2 separate regions of the Homo sapiens genome follow, and region 1 is linked to region 2. A link means that fine-mapping ties the variant in region 2 to the expression of a gene that starts in the linked region. Tissue or cell type: whole blood. Region 2 holds a variant in brackets; the other region holds the start of a gene. All regions are shown on one strand. Distances are from middle to middle.

The links. PIP is the estimated chance that this variant, and not a neighbour inherited with it, causes the effect.
Region 1: INTS8 starts here. The variant in region 2 is fine-mapped to the expression of INTS8 in whole blood (INTERVAL, PIP above 0.99).

Annotation. Positions count from the first base shown.
Region 1 is chr8:94,822,185-94,824,800 of GRCh38, reverse strand. It overlaps INTS8 (integrator complex subunit 8), which reads right to left and starts at 1,514. Exons shown (of 27, transcript NM_017864.4): 1 at 1,240-1,514. The coding sequence starts at 1,369. RefSeq lists an enhancer at 868-927 and a silencer at 1,088-1,477.
Region 2 is chr8:94,642,373-94,645,136 of GRCh38, reverse strand. It overlaps ESRP1 (epithelial splicing regulatory protein 1), which reads right to left. Exons shown (of 16, transcript NM_017697.4): 3 at 1,721-1,834. Among named protein-coding and RNA genes, the nearest start is that of ESRP1, 2.6 kb to the right of the region's middle. RefSeq lists an enhancer at 2,536-2,625. The variant CTG/G (reference allele first, on the strand shown) is at 1,361.

The sequences.
Region 1 (2,616 bases), 180 kb before region 2:
GGGTGGGGGGGGGGGGAGTTTGGGTTTTTTTTTTGCCACAAAAGGAATCCAAACAGCTGCGCTGTTAAAATGACTAAGGAATACGTATGTAAGAAGTGTGCCTGGGGGTTAAAGGAGATGCGGAAGAGTGGTAAGGAGGAAGGGTAACAGATTAGAGTGGAAGAAAGCAAAAAAAAGCACCTTACGGGGAAGAACATAACAGTCATAGATTTCTGGTTCTGCAAATAACCACTGCCAATTAGAAGAATGAGATATAAATATTAGAACTATTATTTTGACACTTAATTAGGGGGACCTCCATCAAGTGACCTCTCCGTACCTGCTTCTTCCAATGCAAAATAGAGGATCATTTTGAAGATTAAATTAAAGGAGGTAACGGATGTGAGCAATTAAGCACAGTGCATGGCACCCGGAAAGCACTCAACAAATTATCTTTCAAAAGGAATGAATTAAGGGCATTATACAGGTGCCAAAACTGCCTAAGTACACTAACTTCTTACACAGTGGTCTCTATCAGTGAAGGCCAGTCTGAGACTGAACAAGCCATATCTAGATTTGAATTTAGAGAAATGCTATCCGAGGAACTTACCTTTTTGTGCCAATACCTTTTTTGAGAATGCCTGGAGTTTTCCTCCTCCCCCATCAATCACACCCATTTAACTGGGCTATTAATCATTATCATCACTATACAAAGCCATCTTGCAAATGTGCAGCAGTTCCTACTTTCAAAGATTTTCTTTTAACTTACAGCCCAACTTTGGAATAAGAGTCAATAAAATTCCCTCACTGAAGAAAAAAATGTTTAAATAAAACCTAAGATAATAACTAGCGTCACGATCAACACCCAACAGCTGGTTTCTCCCCAGCTCCCTGAATTTATTCAGCTTGGGGTTGAAGGAGGCGTCTGGTCAGCCTCCCCGACCCAAGCAACCACAAGACCCGCCTCGCAGCCTCTAAAACCCCAACAGTAAAAAGGTAAATCGTAAAAAGGACCAAAGGGTTTAGGATGACAGCACCAAGCCCTCCCCTCCGGGGGTAGGAGAGCCTTTGTTTCGAGCTTTTCTTTGACCCTCCACCCGGGCATGTTTAAGGGAAGCGAGGAGCCCGGCCGGAGCTGGGCTCCTGTGCGCGCCTCCCAGGCCGCAGCTTCGGTGACCGAGAAGGCGGGGAGCGGAGGGAAGCTGGGCGGACAGCGCCGGTGGCCGGGTCCCGCTCCCCAGGTGCAGGCGCCGCGCTCACCCGGGCAGGGCTTGCGCAGATGTTTCTCCAACAGTGACTCCTCCAGCAGAAACTCAAACCAGCAGGTCTGCGGCGGGGTGCAGGGCCGGCTGGAGGTGGCCGCCTCCCGGTCCGCCGCCTCCGCGCTCATCCTGCCCCCGCCGCCGCTACCACCAGGGCCGCTTCCCGGCTCCAACCTGACACTTGGATGCGGGCCGGTGCCTGGGGTATGCGGAACCCGGTGGGAGAGAGGCCACCCTCCGAACGTCCCGGAAACTCACACAATCCAAAATGGCGGCGCGGGCCAGCCGGAGCTGCGGTCCTGGATCCGCCTCCCCGCGCCACCGCCGCGCCTTCGGACCAATCGTTGTTCGGGTTGGAAGGAAAGGGGCGTGACTAACCTTCGAACCACGCCTCCTCCCGGTTGCCATAGGAGACGGCGCCGCATGAAGCCGGGTCGCGGGTGGGTTTTCCGTGTTCCCTGACAGTTCTCCAGCGAGAAAATGAGACAACCTCATCTAGGGTTGCAACGGGCCTCAATATTTTCGTAAAGGCGAAGCGAAGGGTTCTAGTTGTGACCCAAGCAAAGTTTATCTCCTGTGCTTTCAATTTCCCCGTTCCCATTTCTGAGATTTCCTCGCACCTGGGTCCTCTCCTCAGATGCTCCCGCCGTCCTGCCGAGAACACCAGCTTCCCACTCGCTTCCTGGACGGATGGCAGCATACGGTGAGCAGCCCTTGCTGCTAGCTCCCGATACTTAGAGCCTAGTTGATCCTTTCGATATCCCCGCTAGAGGCGCTGTTAACCCTATACATTTACCTCCGTTCTGTGATGTTCTTGTATTTTTCATTAACGATTAAAACTGAAAAAAGATGCATTCATAGATCGTGAATACAAGGCCAGCCTGACCAATATGATGAAACCCCGTCTCTACTAAAAATACAAAAATTAGCCGGGCTTGGTGGCGGACGCCTGTAATCCCAGCTGCTCAGGAGGCTGTGGCAGGAGAATCGCTTGAACCCGCGAGGCGGAGGTTGCAGTGAACCGAGATCGCTCCATTGCACTCCAGCCTGGGCAACAGAGCGAAACTCTGTCTCAAAAAAAAATTTTTTTTAAGTAGCCGGGTATGGTGACACACACCTGTGGTCCCAGCTACTCAGGAAGCTGAGGCGGGAGGATCACCTAAGCCTAAGAGATTGAGGTTGCAGTGAGCTGTGATTGTGCCGCTACACTCCAGCCTGGGCAACAGAGTGAGACCCTGTCTCACAACGAGAAAAAAAAAAAGAAAGAAAAAAAAGGAAATCAGTACAGATTAACTTGACATTTTGACATTTGTATTACATATGTAAAAATAAGTTTTAATTAAGGAAGAGTTCATTATTCCACTACCATCTAATA
Region 2 (2,764 bases):
GAACCATGAAACCTCCCTATTACCTACAAAAATGCTCATTTAAAAGCTATTTGTAAGGACAATAACTCACATGTTCAACAATAATCAGTTTAAATTGTTGTGTCCATTTAAAATACTGAGTATTTTATTTAGTGGTTATAACAATGTTGATGTTCTATTAAATAATGTAGGCTAAAAGGCTTACGCCGTATGAATGCTCTTTGTAAATAATGCTTGTCTACAGAAATCTAGAAGAATATATCCAAATACATTCATGTTAGAGAAAAACATTTTAATATATTGAGTGGCAGGATTATTTCATGTTTTGCCATTTTCCCTTTTCTTTAACGAATATACAGAATTACTTTCACTATAACATTAATTGTTTTAGTTTCTGTATTTAATCAAAATTCTAATAGCTGTGGCTGAGGAAAAAGTCTTAATTTTTCTCCAGATGTTTTCCTACACCCAAAGCACTCCACCTAAATAATGAAAACAGCTATTTTCCTCTGGCCCAACAGGGAAAAGATTAAGTCTTGTCCTTCCGTCATGTGAGTTTGGGAGTAAAAAAGTAATCCTTACATATTACTATTTCTGGTAAGGATGTAGCGACTAGTCTAGCATTTAATTTTTTAAAAAAATTCTTCCCCTTTTGTCAAATAATTACTAAGACTCGTATAAAAGGAATGATTTTCTGAAGACATAACAACTTGAGTTACTCCTTCAAACTTTTTGAATTGTCATAATATATTAAACGAAATAAAATCTGCACTTACTTGCCTGGGTCGTCATTTGTCAGTCTACATCTTTCATTGCAAGCCTTGCCTTATACAGGTACCTAAATATATTCTACTTCCATCTTTTCAAGCTCGGTGCCTGCCTACCACAATAAAAAGTTACAGCTCAAACTAATTTAAGTTGTTAAGAGACAGTGTATTAACAATGATTGGCTACACTGGGTGGGTTGTCTCTGCTGTTCCTTTTCCCACAGCCCCTCAGTATTTATCCCAGGGAGAGAAATCACATTTTACCTATAGTAAGACTGTATTTCTCTCACTCTGTAATCCTCTCTCTGTCAGAAAAATGAGCAAAGGTAAAAGATGAGGCTGACCCTTTTGTTTTGATGCAAGAATGTTTTGAACATTGACTTAAAATCAGACAAAGTGAAGAGTGCTACGATTGTGGTTTCACTAGATATAAGGTTATCTTATTTAAGTAGCCTTTTTAATGAAATGATTAGAAATACAACTTTAAATGTTTAATTCTTTTTTCCTTCCTTTCTAGGATATAGCATTTCCAACACAAATGAGGATATTATGACATACTAAAGAATAGTTCTTTCCTCTCTTTGTAGTTATTTTAAATGTCAAAAATTCACACT[CTG/G]TATTAGCTTCGGAAAAGGGAAGTGTCATGCATCTTGAAAATTGGACGTAAACAAAGAGACTATTTTAAGTCACCAAAGAGTATCTTTGTATATACATAACACCAAATTTACCATTTTAATAATTTTTAAGAGTATGGTTCAGTAAAACATTAAGTACATTAACATATTTTGCAACCATAAACACCATCCATTTCCAGAGCTTTTTCATCTTCCCAAACTGAAATTCTGTACTCATTAAATAACTCCCTATATGCATCTTTTTAAGAACAGAGAAACTTGAATAAACCAAAAATTTTTAAAAACCTCCAGTCACCCCAAAGCTCCAACCATTTTTTTCCCAGAAGCCAGCACTCTTACCTTCTTGGAAGCCTCAGGATGCAGGATTTGCCTGACATGAAGCTGCCCATCAGTACAGAGACAGAAGGAAGTCCCTACTCCAATATTCAGTTCATTGCTCACTGACTGGTTAAACTGCAAGAACAAGATACACATAGGGATGCAACTGATGCACGATTTACAAACTCTGCAAAGTAGCTCCCCTTGGTGATAGCCAGAGAAAACCGCAATAAGGGCCCTGATGGGTGACACCGGTGCTGGGGCAACCTTGGACAGACTCCTTTCCCACGAACCGTCTAGCTTCCTCGAGGTAGGGAAGCTTTCCAATCAATCCGCAGTTCGCGCCCAGGAGAAACTTGTCAATGCATTCTCCCTTCTGTTTTTACAAAAAAAATTCATTCAAGACTTAAGTCAGATGTCTCATTTCATCAGCAGGTTGCCTGCAGATTACATCATTCCCTAGTGTTACTTTTTATATGTTTGGATGTGCCAGGCTTAAGAAAGATGCCAGCTTCTAATAAACAAATACGGGTATTGGGTATACAGATCTGGAAAGTCTTGGATGAATACACCCCAGGAAGGATAGCTTTCTCCTATAACTCGAAGCTCGTGTGCTAGGGCAGAGGTCGTGAGAACGCAGAGCATTCATCTGTGCACAGGTGTTTAGCGCCCCGCCCTACCCGATCCGGCACCCGTCAGCACCCCGGAACAGCCGGTTTTTAGGTCACCTCAGTCCTAATAAGGGGATTCCATCAGTTCCGCAGTGACACAACGGGCAGCCTTGCACGTTCGGACCTGAAAAACCTCCCTGGCAGTGGGACCAAGGCCACTAAAGAAATAATGACGGACCGAGCCTTTCGTTGGGAGTTCAGAAGCCTGAAACCAGGCAGGCACCTTCAGGTTCCAACCCACAGTGCTACTTCTTGCACACCCGCCGGGCCCACCTGCACGTCTACGCCACAGCGCCCCCTGCCCGAAGGCTGTGGGCCCAAACCCCGCAGGGGAGCGGCGCGTCTGGGGTCTGGACCTGGAGATGGGGGCGCTAGGATTCAAACTCCGCACGTC